Linked DNA regions of Homo sapiens: regions 2, 3 and 4 are each linked to region 1. The links come from fine-mapping of genetic effects on gene expression. A gene starts in region 1. Each other region holds a variant in brackets. All regions are shown on one strand. Distances are between the middles of the regions.

Region 1 (2,687 bases):
GCCTCGGCCTCCCAAAGTGGTGGGATTACAGGCGTGAGCCACCACGCCCAGCCCTTCTTACTTCTTTTTGTCTTCTTATTTAATGTCTACCTCCCCGACTGGAAAGTCAGTTGGAAGGAGTCGTAAGTTGGGTCTCGGTTGCTCAGCGCGGTTCCTGCAGCTTCACCTGGAGGATCCCCAGTTCGCCCCAGCACGGATGGAGGAAAAACTTAAAGCTCCCTATCTATCCCACAATCCCAGAAATCGATGGCTGTGCCCACTTCAAGATCCCATTTCTCACACAGCCTCGGAAAGGCCTGTCCCACACCTGCACTTTCTTTCTCTACAAGACACATGGGCCGCTCCTGTCCACACATTTGAGAATCCTGTACACAAATCTCTCCTGAGCCCCCTCAAGCCTCACCCCACCCCACGCCACCTCACAGGCGCGCGCCTCAAAACCCCCTTCCCGTCTCACACGCGCTCCTCGACACAAGCGTCCTACAAGCCCCCAGCCCCACAAGCGCCCCACGAATTCCTATGAGGGCTGCGCTCCCCGAGCTCCCGCGGCTCCCCACGTTCCCGTGTCCCCCGCCTCCCAGCGCCGCGCCTCCCCCCTCCGCAGCGCCTGCTCTCACCGATCACCTCCTGCAGCTCGTAATCGTCCCTGTTGATGGACCAGGGCAGGGCGCTCGAGTCCTCGGACATGACGGCGGCAGCGGCTCGCGGTCCTCCCTCAAACTCGCTGACCTCGCTCGTCTCCTCGCCGCGCGTCTCCCCACCCCCAACAGCCGCCGCCGCCGCCGCCGCGCCCCCACCAATCGTCTCGGAACAGCCACGGGTCGGACGGCGCCGGGGCGCGGGGTCACCGCGCGGCAGAGCAGCGGGGGCTCAGAGCTCCGGCGGACCTCGCCTCCTGCTCCTCCGAGTCCGGCACTGCCCGGCCCAGCCCACGTCCTGTCCTCGGCCTCCGCAGCAGCAGCGACAGAAGCTTTGCCTGGGCCCAGCCCCTCTGTCCCGCCCTCCACCCCAGCCCCACGCACGGGCCAAACTTTCCCCTCTTCCTCCACCTGCCGACACGCAGCGCGCTGACGTCACTGCGCTGGTCACGCCCCACCTCGGGCCCGCCTCCGGCCGCCATCTCCAGTGTGGCTGGATGTAAAGTGAGCAAGCTAGAAACCCGAGAAGGTAGGAGTTCGCGGTGAAAGGGAAGAAGTGCTTAGGTAGAGGTTCATCGAAGGCATCGAAAAGCCGTAGGAGAGCCTCAAGTAGCACAGAGGCAGTAGCCACACTAAGCATGGCGACCAAAGGGCAGCAAAGTAGAAGGGGCAGAGCCACTTCTAGCGCCTGGGGCACGCTGCTGTCTCCGTCGTCGCATTCATTGGTTTGTTTGAGAAGGAATCAGAAAAGCAATGGGTGTGGGTAGACGTCAGTCATAAATTGGTCCCGCCTCCAGGCTCTTAGCGCGCTTCTCCGTGTTAGGGCTGCAGCCCTTCAAGAGCTCCGTTACCGCGCTCGTCTTACCACTTCCTCTGGAGTGACGTCACGGCGTAACCGTCACACCCTCGAGACGTGCGAAAGGCTCTACAGGGTGTGGAGAAACCCTGAGGGAGCGGCTGGGTGGGGTAGCCTTTGGGTGTGGACCACTGCCAACTAGGATAAAAGGCCTTGGGCCACTGGTCGGAGTGAAACTGGAAGTTTGCCTGGTGACATTTTTTTCAAGGCGGACGTTCTCTCTAACGCTTGTCGCGGCGCTGTCTCTCGCGGGTCCACCCTGCACTGGGCGGGTTCTGTCCATTCGCAGCTTTAGATCTGAAGCTCAAATAAGCACCTGCCTTGAGGGACTCGGGAGGTTGTCTTTCTTCCCCCCGGACAGGGCTTGGGGTATTAAACAAGTGAGATCGACCCACGGATTTGGGGGTTGTCTCACGGGCGTTGGCTTTTGTCGCCCCCACTGAACAGTTTTCTCAGTTTGACTACGTACGGCCGTTAGAGAAATTAGCGAGCTGAAGACTGAACACGCTTGGTAAATTGGATTTTAAAAAATAATGAGCATCCAACAGGGATAGGGCTAGGTGCGAAACTGTTCTAGGTTGGACACCTTTCAGTCCAACGGCAGTCTTTAAGGAAGAGACCTTAGGCCGGGTGCGGTGGCTCACGCCTGTAATCCCAACACTTTGGGAGGCGGAGGCGGGCGGACCACCTGAGGTCAGGAGTTCGAGACCATCCTGACCAACATGGTGAAACTCCCTCTCTACTAAAATACAGAAAAATCGCTGGGCGTGGTGGCTGGCGCCTGTAATCCCAGCTACTAGGGAGGCTGAAGCAGGAGGCGAAGGTTGCAGTGACCCGAGAGCATGCCACTGCACTCCAGTCTGGGCAACAGACGGAGACACCGTCTCAGAAAAAGGAAGAGACCTTCACCTAGGCCCAGCTGAGACGGAGCAGGGACCCCTTTTAGGGCCTGCAGGCCCTCAACCATGGAAATAAAGGAAAATCTTGAGTTACTTCAAGAGAAATTCCCGGCACTTAGCTAGCCTTGAAAAGTTAATGAACCCCTTGATAAGCAAGAGGGCAGTAATAACTTTAAACATTAGCCAAAGAAACTAAAATAACTGGATGTTTGGTTCCCTATAAAAACTAAAGATAACATCAACACATGTCCCTGAGTTGTTTTTTAGAAACCCAGACCCCCACCAAATGGATCT
Region 2 (2,687 bases), 120 kb before region 1:
AGGACATAGTTTCCTCCTCTCAGGATGGCTAGCCAACGAAGAAGGAAAAATACTTTTGCCTGCAGCTAACCAATGAAAATTACTTAAAATCCTTCACCAAACCTTTCACTTAGGCATTGATAGCACCCATCAGATGGCCAAATTATTGTTTACTGGACTAGGCCTTTTAAAAACTGTCAAGCAGATAGTCAGGGCCTGTAAAGTGTGCCAAAGAAATAATCCCCTACACTGCAGGCCATACATTTCAATCCCTGTCTCTTTAACCTCTTTGTTAAGTTTGTCTCTTCCAGAATCAAAGCTGTAAAACTACAAATCGATCTTCAAATGGAGCCCCAGATGCAGTCCATGACTAAGATCTACCACGGACCCCTGGACTGGCCTGCTAGCCCACGCTCCAATGTTGATGACATCGAAGGCGCCCCTCCCAAGGAAATCTCAACTGCATGACCCCTACTACGCCCCAATTCCGCAGGAAGCAGTTAGAGCAGTCATTGGCCAACCTCCCCAACAGCACTTGAGTTTTCCTGTTGAGAGGGAGAACTGAGAGACAGGACTAGCTGGATTTCCCAGGCCAACTAAGAATCCCTAAGCCTATCTGGGAAGGTGACCATATCCACCTTTAAACATAGGGCTTGCAACTTAGCTCACACCCGACTAATCAGATAGTAAGGAGAGCTCACTAAAATGCTAATTAGGCAAAAACAGGAGGTAAAGAAATAGCCAATCATCTATTGCCTGAGAGCACAGCAGGAGGGACAATGATCAGGATATAAACCCAGGCATTCAAGCCAGCAACAGCTACCCCCTTTGGGTCCCCTCCCTTTGTATGGGAGCTCTGTTTTCACTGTATAAAATCTTGCAATTGCACACTCTTCTGGTCCATATTTGTTACAGCTCAAGCTAAGTTTTCGCTTGCCGTCCACCACTGCTGTTTGTCGCTGTTGCAGACCCGCCGCTGACTTCCACCCCTCCGGATCTGGCAGGGTGTCTGCTCTGCTCCTGATCCAGTGAGGCGCCCATTGCCACTCCGGATCGGGCTAAAGGCTTGCCATTGTTCCCGCATGGCTAAGTGCCTGGGTTCATCCTAATCGAGCTGAACACTAGTAGCTGGGTTTCATGGTTCTCTTCCGTGACCCACAGCT[T/G]CTAATAGAGCTATAACATTCACCGCATGGCCCAAGATTCCATTCCTTAGAATCCTTGAGGCCAAGAACCCCAGGTCAGAGAACAAGAGGCTTGCTGCCATCTTGGAAGCAGCCCGCCACCATCTTGGGAGCTCTGGAAGCAAGGACCCCCTGGGTAACAACATGACAACGAATCACAGTGTGGGATCCTGGATTGGATCTCAGACTGGGAAAAGAATGTTAGTGGGAGAACTGGCCAAGTTCAAGTTAGGTCTATAGATTAGTTAATAGTATCATGTCAGTGTTAATTTTCTGGGTTAGATAAGTAAGATGCCAACATTAGGGGAATCTGGGTGTGGAAGGAATGGGAAGTCTGTGTTCATTTTTTTGCAATTTTTTTTTTTTTTTTTTTTTTTTTGTAGAGATAGAGTCACACTCTGTCACCCAGGTTGGATTGCAGTGGCACAATCATAGCTCACTGCAGCTGAACTCCCGGGCTTAGGTGTGCCTTCTGTCTCAGCCTTCAGAGAAGCTATGTCTATAGGTGTGTGCCACCATGCAGGGCTAATTTTTTTATTTTTTGTAGAGATCAGGTCTCACTTTGTTGCCCAGGATGGTCTTGAACTTCTGGCCTCGAGTGATCCTCCCATCTTGGTCTCCCAAAGTTCTGGGATTACTGGTATGAGCCACTGTGCCCAGTCTCACAACTTTTGTTAAAACCCTAAAATCATTTCAAACTAAGACGATTTTTAAAAACGGGAAACTTTAAAAGATACCATTTTTAATATTGAAATATAGATTAGGAACAATCTAACAAAATACATACAAGACACCCATTAGGATGACTATTATTAATTTTTTTAATCATTTCAAACTAACATGATTTTTTTAAATGGGAAACTTTAAAAGATACCATTTATAATATTGAAATATAGATTAGAAACAACCTAACAAAATATGTACAAGACACCCATTAGGATGACAATTATTAATTTTTTAAAAGAAAAGGAAACAAATATTGGTGAGGATGTGGAGAAATTCGAACCCTTTTGTATTGGAATGTAAAAGGGTGTAGCCACCATGGAAAACAGTATGATGGTCCCTAAAAAAATTAAAAATAGGAGTACCATTTGATCCAACAATCTAATTCTGGGTACATACACAAAAGAATTGAAAGCAGGAGCTCAAACAGATTTGTACACCCATGTTCACAGCAGCATTGTTCACAATAGACAAAAGGTGGAAGCAACACAAATGTCCATGGATGGATGAATGGATAAAGAAAGTGTGGTGTATACATACAATGGAATATAGATCAGCCTTAAAAATGAATAAAATTATAATACATGTTACAGTATGAATGAACCTTGAAAACATTCTGCTAAGTGAAATACCAAATCACAAAAGGACATGTATGATTACACTTATATGAGGTACCTAGTCAAATTCATAGACACAGAAAGTAGAATGGTGGTTACCAGGGACTGAGGGAGGAGGAAAAGGGGAGTTATTATGTAGTAGGTACAGAATTTCAGCTTGGGAAAATGAAATCGTTCCGGAGATGGA
Region 3 (2,687 bases), 75 kb after region 1:
TTTTGTTGCCAGTGCTTTTGAGATCATATGCAAAAAATCATTGCCCAGACCAATGTCATACAGATTTCCACCATTTTCTTCTAGTAGTTTTACATTTTCAAGTCTTATATTTAAATCTTTAATCCATTTTATTAATAAGTTAATTTTTGTATATGGTGAGAGACACAGGTCTAGTTTCATTCTGTTAAATGCAATGATATTTTGTCTTGATTTTGTTCAAAATAATCTAGAAGAGCAGGGTGGGGAATGTCTGAGGGAAATGGAGGGGTATAGATGTAATAAGATTGGCCAAGGGTTGATAATTGTTGAAGATGAGTAATGAATACATGGATGATCATTATTCTCTCTATTTTTGTATATGTTTTTATATACAACGTCCATGAACAGTTTCTAAGTTTTATAATATACTGTATTGGCAAAGGTGTAAAGAAACAGACACCCTTACATACTGCTGTTGAAAGTATAAATTGGTACAATCCGCATGGTAAGGATTTTGGCAACATGCCTTACAATTATGAGGGCACAAAGCGCTGGATCAGCAAATCTACTTCAAGGACTGTATCCTGTGGGTAGACTCATCCTTGGACAGAGTGATGTATGTATAATTTATACATAATTTGTAGCCAGAGATCAGAAAAAAATCTTCAGGTCAATCAGCAGGAGACTGCTGAACTAAATTATGGTCCATTCACACAGTAGGATACTATGCAGTTACTAAAACATATGAGAATGATCTCTAAGATATAGAGTTAAGTAGAAAACACAAGGCAAAGAACAGAGTATAGAGTGGGCAACTTTGTGTGTGAAGAAAAAAATGGGGGTAAAAACATGTGCAGTTGCTTATTTGGGCATAGACTATCTCTGGAAGGGCATTCAGAAAACTGGCCAGGTATGGCCTCTGGATGGCTGAGGAACTGGGGTGAAAGGGAGCATTTCACTGTTTACCTGTTTACATCTTTTGAATGTTTTATTTTTATTTATTTATTTTTAGGACAGGGTTTCACTCTGTTGCCCAGGCTGGAGTACAGTGGCTCAATCACAGTTCACTGTAAACTCAAACTCCTGGCCTCAAGTGATCCTCCTATCTTGACCTCCCAAAGTGTTGAGATTATAGGTGTGAGCCACTACACCTGGCTCTTTTGAATTTATTTTTTACTTTAAAAATTGTCTATACAGACAGTATATCACTATGTTGCCCAGGCTGGTCTTTAACTCCCAGACTCAGC[A/C]GTTCTCTTGCTTTAGCCTCCCAAAGTGCTAGGAGTACAGACCTGAGCCACTGCACCCAGTCTCTCTTTTGAATTTTTAATCATGCAAATGTATTTCTTATTTGGAACTATGAATACATTTTGGAACAGACAAACCCCCAAACAATCAGTAAACAAAATACGCAAGAAATGCCAAGGGGAAAGCCTTCCCCAGCTCCCTCACTGCTCCCCTAAGAGTCCTGCTGCTACCCTCTTCCTTTACTTGGAGATCCCAGGAGGATGGGATGAGGGGGATGTCCAGGGCAGAGCAGCTCCAATTCCTTAAAGCTTCGATGAGCCTGTGACAAGTCCTGGACTACACCAAGAGAACAGAGAACCTGGCCTGTGTATGGGCCTTGTAGACCCAACCTGCCCCTCAGCAGTAGATGAGGCCTGACAAAGCCCCTGAACTGGCTCAGTCTCAATCCCAAGAACTAGTTTCTCATCAGGGATCAGATGAGCAGGGACATGAATAAGAGAGCCACATCCTAGGGCTGCAGAACCTACTGGGCACTTGAAACTAGAAAGCAGCTGATAAGAGGAAGCCCTTCCTGACAGCATGGCAGAGTCGCTGTGGCAGTTGAACTCCAACTTGGCTGCACACCAGCATTCCCTGGGGGACTTTAGAAGTCCGGCACCCAGGCCACAGCCCAGTCTAGTGAACTCAGAACCTCAGGGATAGGGCCTTGGTGTTGTTTCCAGGTCTCTCAGGTGATTGCAATGTGCAGCTGAGTTTAAGAATAAGGGCTGCTGGATCTCACTACCTGGTGATATGGCACAGGCCAAATCCACCCCCAGAAGCCAGACGGTTTTTGCTCCTGAATGTCAGGGGCCTCCCTCGGCAGGCTAGTGTGAAAGGCCAAGCATGTCTGTAGCAGCCCACACCCAGTCACATGAAGTGGAGTCAGACTCCTAGACCAGGAGTCGGGGAGAGTGGCAGTGTGCTGCAACAGGGACAGGAAGTATCACCATTTCTCATGGGCACCTCTGGGGACCAGCAAGCAGGTGTGATCAGCTGAAGGGGGCAGCAAAAGGGGCCAGTTAGGAAAGGAGACGCCCACAGCCAGGGGCAGACCACTGAGAGCTTCTGCAGAGGTTCAGGATGAGGCGTAACGGAGTTGGGCCTTGCTGACTATACAAACTGAGGATGAAGCAGGAAAGTGAGAACAAAGCCACAATAACCGCAATAATCAGGTACCAGATGATAGAGGGGCCTGGGGGAGGGAAGACCCAAGAGAGACTGAAGAACCAAGCGAAGATCTTGGAGGCAGCTTGGACATTGGTGGAGGTAGCTCCCAGACTAAAGGTGTGGACTAGCAAGGCTCAGGTTTGTGATGTGATGCTAGGGCTATCTGCATTTGCTTTGTGAAAATGCTCATAAGACAGTCAAATGACATCTGACATCACCCTACAGAATGCAAGAATATGCGTCTACCCAGAAGT
Region 4 (2,687 bases), 90 kb before region 1:
ACATACAACACCAAGAGTGAACCCTAATGTAAACTATGGACTTTGGGTGATAATAGTGTGTCAATGTACACTCAATTGTATCAAATGTACTACTCTAGTGGGGGATGTTGACAGTAGTGGAGGCTGTTTGTGGGTGGAGTTAGGAGGTGTGTGGGAACTCTGTAATTTCTACTCAATTTTATTGTGAAACTAAAACTGCTCTAAAAATTAAAGTCCATTAAAGAAAAAAAAAAAAACCTTGGGGTAGATGACCTGACCCAAAGGGGGAATCCCTGAATGGATGCACTGAGTATTGCTGCCAAACAAATAAAGCTAAGGAACCAAGCCTAGTGATACAACCTGATCTTGTCAGAAAGAATGGGCAAGTGGAAGCTCAATTTGCCCTTGACCCCTTCCCTTCCCTCCAGATATACCATGGTCACTTATGAGTAACAAGCACCTCCTTCCTATCCCCACAATAGTTTGATTCCACTTTTATAACTTGCTTATCTTGAAAGCAAACTCAACTAGCTGTAGGCCAAACAGTATTGTCAACTCCAAGGCTCCACAGCCCTGAGCTCTGAAATACCAGGACCCACAAGCAGTGTTATCATGGATCAAAAGCCACTGCTGTTGGGAAGGGCAGATGATGAGGGAAGATTCCTCCTGCAGTGGGAGGATAACAGGAATACAAAGGAGCCTAGAATCTTACATGTAACTTCACCATTGCAATATCAAAGCCAAGAAGAGATAAGTTCAGCCCTGTTCTGAACTTTCGAAAGAGACTCCCAAGGGCTTGAATCTGGCATCCTTCCTTGCCCAACAGCATAAGCAAAACCAAAGATTTAAAAAAGATCAAAAGATAATAAAAGGAGTTCCATATCCCATCCTATCCAATTCCTTGGGCTGATCTCATCCCTCCCTTTTAGGGTTGCAGTTTCCCCAACTATATAATGGCTTTAATGGTTCTAGATAATTTGTAGATCAACAGACACACTTTACAGTTTATATGTACTTTGGCTTCTATTCGCATGAACAATTAAAGTTGGTGGTGATTCCTTGACCCACAACCCACAGCTCTCCGCCAACGGCCACTAAAATAAAGCGTCCATACACCACTAAGGACAATTTACTCTTTATTGATTAAAAATGAAGAAAACATGCAGTAAAATACAAAGTCCAAAAAAAGGAGGAAAAAGTTGAATATTTTACATCTTCCATAACCTAGCATACATCATAAGGAGGAATCTCCACTTATTGGTACATCATTATTCTCTCCTC[C/T]AGATTATTAAATATTATCAGCTGGCTCTAGGATTTGGTTCAAAACTTAAGCAAAAACCCAACAAATCCTTTAGTCGTTTAGAAAGACCAAACATTTCACAAATAGCATTGGCACATATTACTTTGTGCTATAGTTAGTCCCTACTCCAGGGACAAGGGGATCCTGGGACCTAGTCAAAGAGGTGCACTCTGAATCAGCATTCCTAGAAAGGAGTACAGTCACTCACTAGGTTACGTGCTGTTCCACCTGGGCAGTTTCTGTTCATGTATTTTCTCAGTATCACTGCACAAGCCAGCAAAGGGAGTCTACCACACATCATGCAGAAGAAGTAACACTGTCCTGGGACATGGTGTCTGTCTTCTAATTCCTAGCAGGGCAAACAATGAACTGAAAAGAAGGAGAAACCCCAGCCCAATTCTATTTGCCATGACTGCCCCACTGCAGTTCACAGGTAATGATGGGCTAGAGAAAGTGAACAGGGGATGGGCTGCTGCTCACTCCCAGCTAGGCACCAGACCATCTCCACAAAGAATGCTAGAACAGAGTGATGCTGCCACCCCTTGGATTCATAAATAAGTAGATTTTGATGGGTTTGAAAAAAAAAAAACAAAACTCTAAGGTAAGCGGTAAGCCACTAGTCTTGTGCCAAAGAAGATGCTATCTCTTTTCTATACCTCATTCCTACCTCCCCATCCTTGTTCCTCTCCGTCCCCCCTCCACAAAAAAAGAAAAAGAAAAGCTAAGTATTTTTCTAGCAAGCTGGTCAATCTTCTTTTCTCCCTCCTGGCTCAGCAGGCTCCCTCCTTTTACCAAGACTGCTGGGACGTTGAACTCCGGTGTCTGATCATCTCACCTACTCTCCTCCTAACTCCCAACTGAAATCCATCTCCTCTCTTCCTCCCCAACATCCATCTCTTTCCCAACATGCCTTTGCACCTAGAGCAGGTGAAGAAAGCCCATGACTAAAACTAAAGACTCAGAATGAAACAAAAGGTGTGACAAGTTATTTGTGGGGAAGGTTTTCAGATATGTTCCAAGAGAAAATAAGGTAAAACAACCTTGTTCATCAGACCAACAGTGCTGGAAAGGGCTCGAGTGATTCTGTAAAGGGCAACTCTCCCCCTTTCCAGGGACCCACAGCCCATCTTTGTGTATCTTTTTAAGGCCAGATTGAGTATCCCACTCATATATAAAACTCGGTAGGGTTACTAGCAGTTAGACAAAGACTATGAAACGGTAGGAAAAAAGAAAAATCAACCTCACTGATTATTCACATATTGCATTATGAGTGCTCTTTTTTAAACCTAAAGAATAATTTATATTATTTCTGTAGAAAATCAAATGAACACTGTCTACTCATAAAACCTAAAGGTCACGGCACATGTGGTTTCACTTTCCATCTTGAGTTAGCTTCAGCACACAGAGA

What was found. PIP is the estimated chance that this variant, and not a neighbour inherited with it, causes the effect.
Region 2: its variant is fine-mapped to the expression of OXSR1 in esophagus muscle (GTEx, PIP 0.98).
Region 3: its variant is fine-mapped to the expression of OXSR1 in whole blood (TOPMed, PIP 0.98).
Region 4: its variant is fine-mapped to the expression of OXSR1 in whole blood (TOPMed, PIP 0.96).

What each region holds. Positions count from the first base shown.
Region 1 is chr3:38,163,877-38,166,563 of GRCh38, reverse strand. OXSR1 (oxidative stress responsive kinase 1) reads right to left here and starts at 1,027. Exons shown (of 18, transcript NM_005109.3): 1 at 618-1,027. The coding sequence starts at 687. It overlaps LOC101928234 (a long non-coding RNA gene), which reads left to right and starts at 1,088. Exons shown (of 5, transcript XR_940733.2): 1 at 1,088-1,167. RefSeq lists silencers at 533-582, 633-1,022 and enhancers at 254-869, 1,263-1,362, 1,633-1,762, 1,913-1,992, 1,153-2,352.
Region 2 is chr3:38,288,033-38,290,719 of GRCh38, reverse strand. All of the region lies in intron 1 of SLC22A14 (solute carrier family 22 member 14), which reads right to left. Among named protein-coding and RNA genes, the nearest start is that of SLC22A14, 7.1 kb to the right of the region's middle. The variant T/G (reference allele first, on the strand shown) is at 1,143.
Region 3 is chr3:38,088,498-38,091,184 of GRCh38, reverse strand. The region is part of intron 10 of DLEC1 (DLEC1 cilia and flagella associated protein); the gene reads right to left. Among named protein-coding and RNA genes, the nearest start is that of ACAA1, 47 kb to the left of the region's middle. The variant A/C (reference allele first, on the strand shown) is at 1,227.
Region 4 is chr3:38,253,900-38,256,586 of GRCh38, reverse strand. It overlaps OXSR1 (oxidative stress responsive kinase 1), which reads right to left. Exons shown (of 18, transcript NM_005109.3): 18 at 1,103-2,687. Among named protein-coding and RNA genes, the nearest start is that of SLC22A13, 11 kb to the left of the region's middle. The variant C/T (reference allele first, on the strand shown) is at 1,261.